2 separate regions of the Homo sapiens genome follow, and region 2 is linked to region 1. Evidence: fine-mapped expression QTL. Tissue or cell type: tibial nerve. Region 1 holds a variant in brackets; the other region holds the start of a gene. All regions are shown on one strand. Distances are from middle to middle.

Region 1 (8,175 bases):
TACCCTGCTCCTCCTCTTTCTCTTCCTCTCTGTGGTCGCCCTTCTCTGACAGCCCCGTCACCCTTCTCAGGCCCCACCGCAAAGCTTAGACTTGGGTTCTTCTTATGTGGCTGAATGAGGGCAGCCTGGGAGGGGCAGAGGGACCCATTGGTTTGACATCTTTGAAGTCCGCCTTGTACCGGAATGAGCTAGACCAGCTCTCACATCTAGTCTCAGAAATGGCCACATGCCTTTGGCTTAGTCATTTACCTTCTCTAAGCCTCAACTGCCTCATCTGTAAAATGGGAATTTTATGTCTCATAAACCCAGCCTTGGCTGGGCTTGGTGGCTCACGCCTGTAATCCCAGCACTTTGGGAGGCCAAGATGAGCGGATCACTTGAGGCCAGGAGTTCAACACCAGCCTGGCCAACATGGTGAAACCCCATCTCTACTAAAAATACAAAAATTAGACGGGCGTGTTGGCGTCTGCCTGTAATTCCAGCTACTTGGGAGGCTGAGGCACAAGAATTGCTTGAACCCGGGAGGTGGAGGTTGCAGTGAGCCAAGATCAGGCCATTGCACTCCAGCCTGGGTGACTGAATGAGACTGTGTCTCAACAACAAAAAATAGCCCAGCCTTATGAGACACTGGTGAGCATCAAAGGAGATAAAGTGTGAACAAATATTTGTCAACTCTCAAGGGACATTAGGACGCAAGCTCTTATTCTGTCTGACTAGGTTTGACCTTCCCCAAATCCCCAAATGCTCCCCAGCCTGGAGGGCTTCCTTGGTGGGGGCTGAGCTTCCAGAGCCAGACCCAAGCTCCGTGTTGGTGTCGACCTTGGTCTCGTTTCCCATCCCTCTTCCACAAGCCCACCTTCTAGGAGGTTCATGGTGTCCTATTTGCTGTGAACAGGGACTGACCTATAATTGCAGGCTATTAACTGTATTTTCCTCTCTCATTTGCATACATGAATTTTGCCCTACTTCCAGAAAGCAAATTACAGGCTGGAAATCAGAATATTTCAGAAAGGGGTGATGGGGTTGGAGCGGAGTGATCGCTACATAATGAAGTGTCCGATGCTAAGGTCAAGGCTGGGCCAGGAAAGCGTCCACTGTGGGCCCATGTTCATCCAGGTAATGGGTTCGGGGGGTCTGGGAGGTGGCAGAGGGACCTCCCAGGCTGGGCTTCTCTCTAAAGGCCAAGGCAGGTGGCCCTGGCTCCTGCACCACAGGACGTGGCCCAGGGAGACAGGTGGTAGCTGCAGATGCAGTATGGCATTGTTCTCCTAGACATCCCTGGGTACTGGCTAGGTCTCTGCTGGGTTGGGTTCTGAGCAAGGACGAGTGAGATGGGAGGGGAGGGGGGATTAAAGCTCTCTGACCTCGGGTTCTGGATTTCCCATCTTGGCTGGCTCAGGGGGCCAGTCGGGTTATCACCAAAGCTGCAAAATTGCATCTTTGTGTCCTTTCTCTCTGGATTGAAAAAATTTGCTAAATTTGCTAGTTTGGATGCTTTTTTTTTTTGACCTGGGTAATGTCAAAGAGTTATAGACCCCAGGTACGATCAGGTGCAATGTCTACATTTTAAACATCAGGGAAGAAAGGTTGAGCCCCACATCCAACTGTGAGCTCTTTCATGGCCGTGTGTGCTCCTTGAATTCAAGTTTCTCTCTAGCTCTCATCAGCGGGGCACCTCTGTAAGCTAAACATGATTTGGATGGGAGTGGGGAGGGCTAGAAACCCAAACATCTATAGGGACCAAACCCGCCACAGAAATGAGCGTGCTGGACTGAGGAGGAAGCAATAAAGAATTTTACTCATTCCTTCATTTAGTCAGCTGGGTTTTTTTGTTTGTTTGTTTGTTTGTTTTTTTGAGATGGAGTCTTGCTCTGTTGCCCAGGCTGGAGTGCAGTGGTGCAATCTCGGCTCTCTGCAACATCTGCCTCCTGGGTTCAAGCGATTCTCCTGCCTCAGCCTCCCAAGTAGCTAGGATTAGAGGTGTGTGCCACCATGCCCTGCTAATTTTTGTATTTTTAGTAGAGATGGAGTTTCACCATGTTGGCCAGGCTGGTCTTGAACTCCTGACCTCAAATGATCCACCTGCCCCAGCCTCCCAAAGTGCTGGGATTACAGGTGGGAGCCACTGCACCCGGCCTGTTTTTTTAAAGAGACAGGATCTTGCTCCGTCACGCAGGCTCACTGCAGCCTTGACCTCCTGAGCTTAAGGGATCCTCCCACTTCAGCCTCCCAAGTAGCTGGGACTATAGGCGTATGACACCATGCCCAGCTAATGTTCAAATTTTTTGTAGAGACGGCGTCTCACTGTGTTGCCCAGGCTGGTCTCAAACTCCTGGCTTCAGGCGATCCTCTCACCTTGGCCTCTCAAAGCCCTGGGATTATAGGCGTGGGCCACTACGCCTGGCCCAGCAAACACTTATATATGGCTCATTCTGTGCTGGGTGCCGTTCTACTCACTTTGCAAATATTAACTCATCTCACCTTCATAGCGATTCTATGTAGTTGGTTCTATATTGATCCCCATTCTGCAGGTGAGAGAACTAAGCAGAGAGAGATTAGGAGACTTGCCAGCTGGTAGCAACAGAGCTGGGCTTTGAGCCAGACCACATGGTGGGGGCTGGGGATGCTGGAACAGGCACAACCTACAGTCCTGGCCCCCTACAGAGGGAGCTGAGGCTGGACTGCACTCCAGCCCCATTTTGCCAGATTTTCCAACATTTCAAGATAAACTGGAAATCTATAATTGTATGTGAAATCCTCCAGTTAAAAAAAGTTCACTTTATTTATTTATTTTTTTGAGATGCAGTCTCGTTCTGTCACCCAGGCTGGAGTGCAGTGGCGTGATCTCAGCTCACTGCAACTTTCGCCTCCTGGGTTCAAGTGATTCTCCTGCCTCAGCCTCACGAGTAGCTGGGATTACAGGCATGCATTACCATACTCGGCTAATTTTTTATATTTTTGGTAGAGACGGGGTTTCCTCATGTTGGCCAGGCTGGTCTAGAACTCCTGACCTCAAGTGATCCGCCTGCCTCGGCCTCCCAAAGTGCTGGGATTACAGGTGTGAGCCACCACGCCCGGTCAAGTCACTTTAATTTTGTAGGCACTGTGCGGCTCAAACAAAGTGCTGGATTTGGCCTGAGGGATTTGGGTGGGCATCTTCTGTCTGTGAGGAGGAGGAGGAAGGAAGGAGGAAGAGAAAGGAGAGGAAGGCAGAACTGAGAGGAGGAGGTTGGAGTGAAAAGGCTGCTGATGACAAACACCATTTATCCAACAAGCATTTGTTCATTTATTTATTTTGAGACAGAGTCTCGCTCTGTTGCCTAGGCTGGCGTACAGCGGTGTGATCTCGGCTCACTGTAACCTCTGCCTCCTGGGTTCAAGCGATTCTCATGGGATCACAGGCATGCGCCACCACCAGTTTAATTAAAGCCAGTTGATTTTTAAAATATTTTTTGCGTTTTTAGTAGAGATGGGGTTTCACCATGTTGGCCAGGCTAGTCTCGAACTCCTGACCTCAACCGATCCACCTGCCTTGGCCTCCCAAAATGCTAGGATTACAGGCGTGAGCTGCCGCGCCTGGCCCCAACAAGCATTTATTGAGCATCTATTGTATGCCCAGCCCTGTGCTGCTGCTGAGGGAACAGATACGACCAAGGCATGACTTGCCCCAGGAAGAGCTTATCGCTTTCTTCTCATCTGATCTGAGCTTCAAAAATGAGTGTGCTGTGGTGGGAAGGGCCCCTGCACCAGCCCAGCTCAGAAGACCTGGGCTCATCTCCGCTCTGAGCCCGGCTCACTGCCATGTTGGACTCTCTAAAGTTCCTTTGCTTCTTAACCTGAAGGAGCAGGGGCTGAGCGGGAGGGGCTTCCTCTGCCCACCTACCTTTATTAAGGGCTCAGAGTGGCCACGCCAAAGCCAGTGTTGGTGCACCTAAGAATTGCGGGGCCGGCCCCGCCCCGGGATCCCCAAGCAGGGCTGCCAGGGCACCTGTTTGACATCCCGGGGCTGGTTACTGCTCCCTTTGCACTGAGCCTGTGATTCTGGAAGCCGCCGCTAGGGGGACGGTGTTGCTGTCCTCACACGACAGTGGGCCTGGGCCGAATTGCTGAGAAAAGCAGAAACGACTCCTCACTCGGGCGCCGCTTGGTCTCCATCGTCCTGCCCTTGAAGCCCAGATGCCCCAATGCCCCAGTCCCTGGCATCCTTCACTGACCGAGGTGTGGGAGCAGGTGGGT[G/A]GGGGGGGCTCTGCATCCGTAAACAGAGTCGCACAGAGGTAGGCAGCACACAAGGAGCAGAGGCAGGTCTCTGCTGCCCCCGCCTCCCCTCCAGCCCCTTCCCCCATCTGAGAACCTCATCGAATTGACTGATTCATTCCTGGTGACTTCTGCAGCCGCCACTTCCGTGGCTGCACCTTGAACTTGCATTAAGTTTTAATTAAAGCCGTTTCACCGGCCTTGCCCTTGGCTAAATGCAGCTGTGGGCACAGGGCACATAGATATTTAATACTCTGCCTCTCCCCGCTGATGGCGCAGGGTGCCCAAGGGTGTACCCGAGCCGTGCCCTGCTCGCAGCGATCTGCGAGCTCGCTTAAGTGTGCCCACAGGCCCCGAGCGGGAGGCCGCGCAATAACTATTCATTGCCCTGGGTTAAGTGTGCCCAGGGGCACCCGTAAACTCAATGCAGTGATTAGCGATTGCTCCCAGTGAAGGCTGCCCGAGCTCCTGCGGAATGTCCACGGGCCCTAAATATAGCCTCCTCCTGGCGACTTAAAGGGCACGGTGCGTTTTGGCTGCGTACTTGTCACGTCTTCCCTTCCTTTCTTTTTTTTTCTTGGAGACAGAGTCTCACTCTGGCCAGAGTCGCCCAGGCTGGAGTGAGTGGGACAATCTCAGTTCACTGCAACTTCCGCCTCCCAGGTTGAAGCGAACCTCGTGCCTCAGCCTCCTGAGTAGCTGGGACTACAGGCGCCTGCCACCACTCCTGGCTAATTTTTTTATTTTTTATTTTTTGTATTTTCGGTAAAGATGGGGTTTCACCATGTTGCCCAGGCTGGTCTGGAACTCCTGAGCTCAGGTGATCCACCCGCCTCAGCCTCCCAAAGTGCTGAGATTCCAGGCATGAGCCACTGCACCTGGCCTTCCCTTCCTTCTTTTAGCAGAATTGCTTCCCTCCTTCTTACAGCCTGGCCTCTGGGGGCCTCTCTGTCTTCTTCCTGGTTCAGCAGGGGAGATGGGCTGGGGCACCATGGTGCAGCTTTGGTGGTGTTGTTGAGGAATTGCCGCATCCTCCTCATTCTGCCAGACCTTGTGGACATCTCCTCCATTTCTTCCACTTTGCTCCCCAAGGGAAGGCAGCACCCCCTAAAAGCAAGGCCATCACAGGGCTGACCCGAGGGGCTCCCTGTGGGCAGCCCGAGCCTGCTGCCAACATGGGCTCTCTGGGGCCAAGGAACAGCCGAGCTGGGCAACTGGGGAGGCTGCATGGTGGTGGCGGGCCTTTTCCTGGCCCCACCCACTCCTTTCTGCTTCTGGAAGCCCTTCTTTGCCCCTGGGGAGAAGAGGTGGGTAGCCTTGAGTTGGGGAGCTGTCAAGATGAGTCAGTCCACTCTGGCTCCAGTCTCCTCATTCTGTATTGGGTAGGAGAGGGGGTCTGATGGTCTCCGAGGGACCCTCTGCTGGTCTGTGACTCTGTCCGGTGCCACAACCTCCCTGGCCAAGTCTGACGCAAAGGCAAAGGGGCATTTGGAGAAAGTAGAGAGACTTGAGAGAGCACCTGGGTGGGGTGGCACTGGCTGCAGAGGGGTTTTGGGGAAGGTGCCTTGCCCACGCCATCACCTTGGGCCCTGGTCTGTGAAACGGGAGAATGGTGCCACCCTACGGGATGGCTGTGAGACTCAGGCGCGGTACGAGAAACCACTGTCTCGGTTTGCCTGGGCCTGTCTCAGTTTTAGCACTGAAAATCCCACATCAGGGGAACCTCCCCACTGCTGGGGAACCGGGATGGTTGGTGCCCCTAAGAATGGTGCCATTGGGGGGCACATGTGTACTCTCTGGGACCGTAGAAGCCCTCACTCTCTACTTCTGCTAGTTGGATCCAAAGTGGAAAGAAAAAGGGCGAGAAAGAAATTGGGACTTAGGGAGAAAAACAGACAAGAGGCCTAGGAAACAGCCCCAATGGAAGTGGGCCGTGAGCAGGGTTGGTCCCATGCACACCCGCTCTTGGCCTCACCAGCTGCGCCCAGGACCCCAGCTGCCCCCTTGGCCGGGCCTAGGATGGCAGCTGAGGCAGTGACATTTCCCTGCGTCTGTTGACACTCGAGTCCCAGAACATAAATGATTTTCTTGTCTTAATGAGCAAACAACCCTGCGGCACAGCTCTCTCACCGGCCTCCTGCTGGGGTAATTGCCGGTGCTGATGGGCACAGGCAGGGATGTTTGCTCACCTTTGCTCACCGCTTGCAGGAGACATTGCTTCCTCTTTGTCTCTGCAGGTCTCCCGGCCCCTGCCCCTGTGGAGGGACAATAGACAGGTAAGCGGGCCCCATTGAAGTAGCAGGAGCAACTCTCTGGAAGTTTCTGCTAGGACTGGTGGGTGCTCAGGATGCTCTGAGGCAGCTTTTGAGTTTGCTTGTCCTCCGGAGAGTGTCGTGGATGGTACAGACTCTTCAAGGACCAGGTCTTGCCGGCTGAAGTTTGAAGCTCCCACTGATGCCCTCCAGGCAGAGGCCTGAGGCCATCTGAGAACAATCTTGAAGAGGGGACCCCAGCTTTGGGTGGGAGGCTGGGTTGGAAGGCTGTAAGGTCCTTCCTGTGCTAAGATTCTCTCTGCCAAGTCTCCAGTGACAGGGAGCTTGTTCCTTTGTAAGGAGCTTGTTCCATGTTGCACAGGTGTTTCCCGAATTTTCCTTCTGCTGGTCCTTTGAGTGTTTCCCGCAGCCTCCCCGAAGGATCCAGTCCCTCTTCTCCATTTCACATCCCTTTGAATATTTGGGGTCAGTGAGCTTGACCTCCCCAAGTCTTCCTGATGTCTCCCTGCCAGTCCTCCTGAGATGGGAGCTGGCGACCCTTCCCTGTCCCTCTGCCCGCATCTGGCCCTCACCTTTATTCAAGACCCTGATTCCCATGTCCCACTAAAGGGTGGCAAACAGAGCCAAGGACAGGACTCCAGTTGTGCCCAGCCAGGGCGGCATAGGGGCCGACTGGTTGGCATTGCTGTTAGGGGTAACTGTGTGTTCGTTCTTTCAGTTGCGTTGTACACCTACTGTGTGCCAGGCACCCCTGCAAGGGACCTCCTACCCTAAAGTATAAGCGTGCTAGCGTCTGGTTGACTCTCCTCCCAGAGTGGCCTGCCGTCCTGCCTCCTGGCCTAGATTATCCTCCCCGTGACCCTGTTGCCTTCCTAGGTGACCCTTCAAGTGTCCCCTCTCCGTAACCCCTAGTGACCGTGCCTCCCTGGCCACATGGTTTGTGATCGTGTCCTCTTTCTCCAGACTCCATGGCTGCTGTCCCTTCGAGGGGAGCTGGTGGCTTCTCTTGAAGACGCCAGCCTGATGGGACTGTATGTGGACATGAATGCCACCACTGTCACCGTCCAAAGCCCGAGACAAGGCCTTCTTCAGAGGTGGGAGGTCAGTGGTGGGCAGCAGGCTCTGCCAGGAGGTGAGGGGCCTCTGGGGCATAGCACCTAGAAGAGCAGGTTGCCACCCCTCCAGTGACAAGTCAAATGTCCACCTGCGAGACTGGACAGATTTAGGCAGGCGCCTTCGAAAATTGGGCCCCATTAGCGTAAAGCGCTCCGCTCTGCAGATGAGGGGCTCCTGCAATCATGCATTCAGTGCGTCCTGATCATGGCGGCAGGAGCGTAATTACCGTCTCTTTAAATAGCCCAAAGTTGCTGTGTAAGAGAAGACGGCTCACATGACATTTGCTCTGAGCTCGCTTCCTGCTAAAAATATCTCAGCTAAATAATATTTCCTAGTTGCATCGGCGCCATAATCCCTGACCTGGGCTTTGTAACACTTGGGGCTTTAGTTCAGAGACTAATTCGAAGGTAGGAGAGGGGGCCCCTGTGGAGGGAGTCTGCATCTGGAAGGAGCAGTTTTGGAGACCTCAGGGGGGACCCCCCTTCCTCCCCAGGTGCTGAACACCTCTGCTGAGCTCCTGCCACTATGGCTG
Region 2 (8,175 bases), 21 kb before region 1:
GAGAAATGAAATTTGAGCTCCACTGGAAAGACCCCAATGAAATTGCTTTCTCTAAAAATATCTAAGACGGGAGCCCCTACTGCGTGTGTGTGTGTGCGCGCGCATTTCTAGGAGTGTGTGGGGCATATGCTAAGAGTTTTGTATAGGGTTGTGTGTGTAGGTGGGTTTCAGGGTGTGTGTGTAGAGATGTCTGTGGCTATGTTTATAGGTGTGTGCGTGTGTGTGTAGGAGGAATGGGGTTTAGGGTATCAGATTAGGAAAGAAAACCTGTTTTTCAATTCCTGTTTCTTCTTCTCTTTTTAAGATTTAAACAACAGCTCCAGGGTGGTCCTTGCAGGTTCTCTGAGTGAGCTGTGTACCAGTGATGTTTGCCCTGGCTTTGGCGTTTCTGTTTGAGGCCTTATGAAGTGGGCCAGGGCATCTGGGCCTCCTCCAGGGCCCGTGAGGGTTTCACCAGCTGTGTGTTCTGATCCTGCCTGCTTCTGTTTGGTGTGATGAGGGCCTTTCACCTGAGCGTGAACAGATCCTGGTGACAACCAGCTTCCATGCACCACTCTGGGTCTCCACTTCCAACTCCATGTCTTCTTAGGCGGCTCATGATAAATCCCGAGCAATTTGGGATTAAAGGAAAAGTTGGTCAACAAAAAGATGAGTTAAAAAGAGAAACAGGGCTGGGTGTGGTGGCTCACGCTTGTAATCCCAGCACTTTGGGAGGCTGAGGCGGGTGGATCTCGAGGTCAGGAATTTAAGTTCAGCCTGGCCAAGATGGTGAAACCCCGCCTCTACTAAAAATACAAAAAATTAGCCAGGCGTGGTGGCAGGTGCCTGTAATCCCAGCTACTCGGGAGGATGAGGCAGAGAATTGCTTGAACCTGGGAGGTGGAGGTTGCAGTGAGCAGAGATCGTGCCACTGCACTCCAGCCTGGGTGACAGAGTGAAACTCCGTCTCAAAAAAAGAAAAGAAAAAGAGAAACAGGCTGGGTGCAGTGGCTCACACCTGTAATCTCAGCACTCTGGAAGCCTGAGGCAGGAGAATCACTTGAGCCTAGAAGTTTGAGACCAGCCTGGACAACGTAGTGGTATCTTTCGTACGGACCCCATCTCAGAGACCTCTGGTCTCTGTCTCTTGTTTGTTTGTTTTTTGAGATAGGGTCTTGCTCTGTCGCCCGGGCTGGAGTGCAGTGGTGTGATCTCAGCTCACTGCAACCTCTGCCTCCTGGGTTCAAGTGATTCTCGTGCCTCAACCTCCCGAGTAGCTAGAATGAGTGATATGCGCCATGATGCCTGGCTAATTTTTGTATTTTTAGTAGAGATGGGGTTTCACCATGTTGGCCAGGCTGGCCTCAAACTCCTGACCTCAAGTGATCTGCCCACCTCAGCCTCCCAATGTGCTGGGATTACAGGCGTGAGCCACCGTGGCTGTTCCCTCTGGTCTCTTTTGTCTCTAGAAAAAATTTAAAAATCATCCAAGCATGGTGGTGTGTGCCTGTATTCTCAGTTACTCAGGAGGCTGAAACAGGAGGATTGCTTGAACCCAGGAGGTCGAGGCTGCAGTGAACCGTGATTGCACCATTGCACTCATGCCTGGGTGACAGAGTAGGACCCTGTCTCAAAGAAAAAAAAAAAAGCCAAATCCCAGATATGTGGGAATGTGACCTTATTTAGAAATAGGGTCTTTGCTGATGCAATCAAGTTAAGTGAGGTCATACTGGATTAGGCTGGCCCTTAATCCAGTAATTAGAGTCTTTATAAGAAGAGGAAAATTGGGGCCGGGCGTGGTGGCTCAGGCCTGTAATCCCAGCACTTAGTGCCCCTGTACTCCAGCCCGGTGACAGAGTGAGACTCTCTCTCAAAAAAAAAAAAAAGAAAAAGAAAAATGTGGACAGAGACACCCAGGAAGAATACCATATGCTGGTGACGGAGGCAGAGATGGGAGTGATGCAGCTACAAGCCCAGGACACCCAGGACTGCCACCAGCCACTAGAAGCTAGGAAGAGGCAGGGAACGACCCTCCCCTGGGATCTTTAGAGAGATCGTGGCCCTGCTGACACCTGGATTTTGGACTTCTGGCCTCTAAACCTGGGAGATAATTAGTTTCTGGTTTTTTTTTTTTTTTTTGAGATGGAGTTTCGCTCATCACCCAGGCTAGAATGCAGTGGCGCCATCTTGGATCACTTGCAACCTCCGCCTCCTGGGTTCAAGCGATTCTCCTGCCTCAGCCTCCTGAGTAGCTGGGATTACAGGCGTGTGCCATCATGCCCGGCTAATTTTTGTAATTTTAGTAGAGATGGGGTTTCGCCATATTGGCCAGGCTGGTCTCGAACTCCTGACCTCAGGTGATCTGCCAACCTCAGCCTCCTAAAATGTTGGGATTACAGGCTCTCTTTCTCTCTCTCCCTCTCTGTCTCTCTTCCTGAGATACAATCTTGCTCTGTTGCCCAGGCTGGAGTGAGCCACTGTGCCTGGCTTCCTCGACTTTCAATAATGGCAAGTATTTGGGGCGGGGGGAGGAAGGGATAAACACAGATAAAATGGAATAGTTAAAATCAAGACTTTTTTTTTTTTTCACTTGCAAAGGGTATTAGGAACCATCTAGTCCTAAATCCTCATTTTGCAGGGATATTTGTTTGCAAGGGCTGCCACGACAGAGTACCACAGACTTGGGATTTACACACCAATTGATTTCTTCACAGTTCTAGAGGCTAGGAGTCTGAGATCAAGGTGCAGGCAGGGCTGGTTTCTCCGGAGCTGCCTCTCTGGCTCACAGCTGGCCATCTTCTCCCTGTGTCCTCACACCGTCATTCCTCCGTATGTGTCCGTGCCCTAATCTCCTCTTCCTTTTTTTTTTTTTTTTTGAGACGGAGTCTTATTGTATCGCCCAGGCTGGAGTGCAATGGCACGATCTCAGCTGTCTGCAATCTCTGCCTTCCAGGTTCAAGCGATTCTCCTGCCTCAGCCTCCAGAGTAGCTGGGATTACAGGTGCCCACCACCAAGCCCGGCTATTTTTTGTATTTTTGGTAGAGACAGGGTTTCACCATGTTGGCCAGGCTGGTCTCAAACTCCTGACCTGATGATCCACCCACCTCAGCCTCCCAAAGTGCTAGGATTACAGGCGTGAGTCACTGCGCCTGGTCTTTTTTTTTTTTTTTTTTTTTTTTTTTTTTTTTTTTTTTTTTTTTAGACGGAGTTTTGCTCTTGTCACCCAGGCTGCAGTACAATGGTACGATCTTGGCTCACTGCAACCTCCATCTCCCGGGTTCAAGCAATTCTCCTGCCTTAACTTCCCAAGTAGCTGGGATTACAGGCGTGCACCCCCACACCTGGCTAGTTTTGTATTTTTAGTAGAGATAAGGTTTCACCATGTTGGCCAGGCTGGTCTCGAAGTCCTGACATCAGGTGATCAGCCTGCCTCGCCCTCCCAAATCACTGGGATTATGGGCATGAGTGACTGTGCCCGGCCCCTTTTTTTTTTTTTTTTAGACAGGGTCTTGTTCTGTTGCCCAGGCTGGAGTGCAGTAGCACAATCAGGGCTCACTGCAGCCTCAACCTCCTGGGCTCAAGCAATCCTCTCACCTCAGCCTCCTGAGTAGCTAGGACCACAGGTGTGTGCCACCATGCCCAGCTAGTTTTTAAATTTTTTGTAGAGACAGGGTCTTGCCATGTTCCCCTGGCTTGTTTCGAACTCCTGACCTCAAACAATCTGCCCATCTCTGCATCCCAAAATGCTGGGGTTACAGGCATGAGCCACCATGCCTGGCCCCTCAGCTCCTTTTGAACTCTGCCAGGAGGGGCCTGGAGCAGGGTTCTGGGAAGCCCCATCAAGACAGCGTGACTGTTCCTCCGGTGAAGCTCAGTTTCTTAGCTTCTTTCCTTCCTTGGGCACAGAGACAGGCTTCTCCCGGGAGCGGAGAATGAGGGCCTGCACTCCAGCCTCAGTGGATCAATTCATCTTCAGCCTTCTGATCCGCAATCTTATTTTGAGCTCCCACGGCTGAAGCAATTCATCTCACCCATGCAGAGGGATGGGGAGAAGCTGAGAGTGTTGACACCCACCTGTGTTTTCTGGCACCTGAGTGACCCGAGACCTGCACTGGAGGGGAAGGGGAGGAGCCAACCTTTCGTTTAGTTGCTTGGAACTGCTTCAGATTAAATTCTCCCAGGGCAGGAGAGAGCTGCTGGGCCTGAGGATGTGGGGGTCCCCAGCACTTGCCTGGTAAGTGTCCCTTATTCAGGAATTGGGAGAAGCCAGTGGCATGCTTAGTGTGCCCACACTCCTTGAAGAAGCCAAATATCTTCCATCAGAATCAGAAGCCTTGCATCTAAGAGGGAAGGGGGCCAAATGGGTGAGGGGCCCAGATGCATGGATGCCTTGGGAAGGGCTGACTTTCTCAGGTGAGGTCCGGCCACAGTCTCTCCCACCTTTCTCATGCTCCTGTCATCCCTTGTTCTGGAATTCCAGTCCTCCCATCTTGGGAAGGATTTCCAGAAGATTGGGAGAAAACAGAACACGTCTTCCTTGTCCTAGAGGGTCCTTAAAACAAAACAAATTAGGGGTCAAGTTGACCAAGAGATGCTTGATTTCAAGGAGTTTTCAAATGATAGGAGTTGTGGTCGCTAGCTATTCGATTGTAAGGATTAGGAGAAAATTTCATTTTCCTTCCTTCCCTCCCTTCCTTCCTTCCCTCCCTGCCTTCCTTCCTTTCTCCTTCCTTCCTTCCCTTTCCTTTCTTTTCTCTTTCTCTCTCTCTCTCCCTCTCTGTCTCTCCTTCTTCCTGAGATAGAGTCTTGCTCTGTTGCCCAGGCTGGAGTGCAGTGGCAAGATCATAGTTCACTGTCATCTCTTAACTCCTGGGCTCAAGTGATCATCCCACTTTAGCCTCCTGAGTAGCTGGGACCATAGGCATGTGCCACCACACTTTGGTAATTTTTTAATTTTTTTGTAGAGACAGGGTCTTACTGTGTTGCCCAGGCTGGTCTTAAACTCCTGGGTTCAAGCCATCCTCCTGTCTCGGCCTCCCAAAGTATTGGGATTACGGGCATGACTCACTGCACTTGGCCAAAATCTCATTTTCCTTGGCAACAGAATTGCTACCTCTTTTCCCCATCTGAGATGCATTTTTAAGAGATACTTTAAAAAGCTCCTGAGAGTGGGAAGTGAAGCCTCCCAGGCCAGCTGGAATGTCACAATAGCTGGCTTGTGGCCTTTGGGCCGTGGACTGCAGGGCTTTTGTTGGGCGTTTTGTGAGGTTGAAGTCTGTAGACAATGAAGGCAGTGGAGAAGCTGAGTGGGGCTTTGTGGGGCTGGGCGAGCAAGGGGGAGGTCCGGGCCCTGTCCTGGGGACCCATTGCCTTCTCCTGGATGCCCCATGAGGGGGCTCAGCTTTGGGGGATGGAGCATCATGTCTCCCCCCAGACTGGGATGGGGCAGTTCTGGGTCTGAGAAGTGAGGGGGAAAAACCCAAACCCACATCTTTCTCCCGATTGATGCTCAAGGAGGAGAACAGGAGCAGGCATCAGACGGAGGGGAGAGCTGTCTACCCCCCACCTGCCACCGGGCCGATTCCAGACAGCATTCCCTGTGTAACAGCAGAGTCGGGGTCCCTGGCAAGGCCGGGACTCAGCACCAGAGTCAGCCACTTTCCTTTTCCCCAAGATTATTCTTCTGGTCCTGTCTCAGATTTACTCGCTCTGGGAGAACCTTCCTTCAAGACCAATTGCCCCAGCCAGGTTTTTGTTTTGCAAATTAATCAACTAATAATAGCGCCTCCCCGCTGCTGGGAGAGGAATTCCGCATTGGGCTCAGTGTCCAGGCAGCAGAGCCCAGGGCGGGTACCCGGCCGTCCATGGGAGAGGCTCGCCACAGGCGCTTCTGAATTCAGCGAATGAAGCGGGGCAGCGGGGCAGCCAGGCAGCCGCAAGCTCCTCCCAGCTCAAAGGCTGCAGGCTCAGCTTAGATTCCAGGCTGGGGAACCAGTCCTGTCATTCTTTGCCAACCCACTCTGGGGAGACTGTGGGCCCTGGCATTTGGCCTCCCTGGGCTGGGCCTGAGGCCCTGGCCCTCTGCCCACCCAGGAATCGAATGGCTCAACGAGGGCAGCCCTAGAAGGAAATGCAGCACCCATTCCTGCCTTTTCACATTGCTTTTTAAACTGTTAACTTTCTTTCTTTCTTTTTTTTGAGACGGAGTTTTGCTCTTGTTGCCCAGGCTGGAGCGCAATGGTGAGATCTCGGCTCACCACAACCTCCACCTCCCAGGTTCAAGCGATTTTCCTGCCTCAGCCTCCTGAGTAGCTGGGATTACAGGCATGCGCCACCGCACCTGGCTAATTTCGTATTTTTAGTAGAGATAGGGTTTCACCATGTTGGCTAGGCTGCTCTCAAACCCCTGACCTCAAGTGATCCGCCCGCCTCCGCTTCCCAAAGTGCTGGGATTACAGGCGTGAGCCACTGCACCCGTCCAATAGTAGTTTCTTTCTTTTCATTGCAGTTCAGTATTCCATTGTAGGAGTAGACCACAATGGGTCCATTCTACCACTGCTGGGCGCTGGGGTGGTTTCCAGGTTACAGGAAATAATAGCACTGCTGTCAACAGTCTTGCACGTGTCCTCTGATGCCCTTGTGCTTGCCTTGCAGTTGGAGAGGAAGCGCTGGGTCGAAGGGTGGAGGAATGTTCAGTCTTAGTAGATTCTACCAGTTCCCAAGAGTGGTTGAACCAACCTCACTCCCGCCAGGAGGCAGGAGCTTTCTCAATGCTCCACATTCTGCCAATCTCTCCCTGTCATTCTTTCTTTCCAGCTTCTGGCTTCAGGATTATTTCCTGAACTCCTCTAAGGAAAGCTTCTTTGTGGGAAGTTTAGGTTCTTGCCTGCAGTCATTTTAAATAGTTGGAGTCTCAGCTGCCCGAAGAGTCTTTTAAAATGTGAGATCCTTGCCCTGGGTGCGGTGGCCCACACCTGTAATCCCAGCATTTTGAGAGGCTGAGGTGGGCGAATAACTTGAAGCCAGGAGCTCAAGACCAGCCATGGCCAACATGGTGAAACCCCCGACTCTACTAAAAATACAAAAATTAGCCAGGCGTGGTGGCACACGCCTGTAATCCTAGCTACTCAGGAGGCTGAGGCACGAGAATCACTTAAATCTGAGAAGCAGAGATTGCAGTGAGCCGAGACTGTGCCACTGCACTCCAGCCTGGGTGACAGAGTGAGATACTCAGTCTCAAAAAAGAAAAAAAAAGTGAGATCCTCTTCCTTCCCTGCTTAGAGTTCTCCAGGGCTTCCCACAATTTTTTATGGTAAAACCCCAGCCTGCACCCCTGGCCATGGCTCCTGCCTGCCCCTCTCCTTTTTGCCCACCAGCGGCCCCTCTGTCACTGGCTCTAGTTCCACTGACCTTCTTTTGAGTCCTTAAACACAAACACACCAAACTCATTTCCGACTGTTTGCTGTGCACTGACTATTTCCTCTGCTGAGGAATGCCCTTCCCCAGGTCTTTGCATGGGACTCTTTCTTTTTTTTTGAGACAGGGTCTCGCTTTGTTACCCAGGCTGGAGTGCAGTGGGACAATCATTGCTCATTGCAACCTAGACCTCCCAGGCTCAAGCAATCCTCCCACCTCAGCCTCCTGAGTAGCTGGGACCACAAGCGCATGCCACCACACCAGGTTAATTTTAAAATCTTTTTGTAGACATCGAGTCTTGCTATTTTGCCCAGGCTGGTCTCAAACTCCTGGGCTCAAGTGATCCTCCTGCCTCAGTCTCCCAAAGTGTTGGGATTATAGGCATAAGCCACCATGCCCAGCGGGACTCCGTGACATACATACCATCTTGGTTCAACTGTCACCTCTCAGTGATGTTTTACCTGACATAAAGAAATTTGGGGGCTCGGTGCAGTGGCTCACGCCTGTAATCCCAGCACTTTGGGAGACTGAGGTGAGTGGGTCGCTTGAGCTTAGGAGTTTGAGACCAGCCTGGGCAACATGGTGAAACCCCATCTCTACAAAAAAAATACTAATAAATTAGCCGGGCGTGGTGGCTAACTTTTTTTTTTTTTTTTTACTGTGGAGTTTTGTTCTTGTCACCCAGGCTGGAGTGGTACAATGTCACGCTCTCAGCTCACTGCGACTTCCGCCTCTCGGGTTCAAGCGATTCTCCTGCCTCAGCCTCCTGAGTAGCTGGG

Direction of the effects. Positions count from the first base shown, and alleles are read on the strand shown. Sizes are in standard deviations (SD) of each study's normalised expression.
For the expression in tibial nerve of the gene that starts at base 4,150 in region 2, allele G in region 1 goes with a lower level than allele A (moderate effect, 0.71 SD a copy in GTEx).

Evidence for each region. PIP is the estimated chance that this variant, and not a neighbour inherited with it, causes the effect.
Region 2: CIROZ starts here. The variant in region 1 is fine-mapped to the expression of CIROZ in tibial nerve (GTEx, PIP above 0.99). The same link has a PIP of 0.9 or more in pituitary.

The regions. Positions count from the first base shown.
Region 1 is chr1:10,957,069-10,965,243 of GRCh38, reverse strand. It overlaps CIROZ (ciliated left-right organizer protein containing ZP-N domains), which reads left to right. Exons shown (of 13, transcript NM_001170754.2): 5 at 973-1,116; 6 at 6,492-6,530; 7 at 7,491-7,628; 8 at 8,137-8,175. Among named protein-coding and RNA genes, the nearest start is that of CIROZ, 21 kb to the left of the region's middle. RefSeq lists enhancers at 1-28, 4,475-5,244, 6,014-6,783 and a silencer at 3,878-4,172. The variant G/A (reference allele first, on the strand shown) is at 4,237.
Region 2 is chr1:10,978,051-10,986,225 of GRCh38, reverse strand. It overlaps CIROZ (ciliated left-right organizer protein containing ZP-N domains), which reads left to right and starts at 4,150. Exons shown (of 13, transcript NM_001170754.2): 1 at 4,150-4,214. The coding sequence starts at 4,189.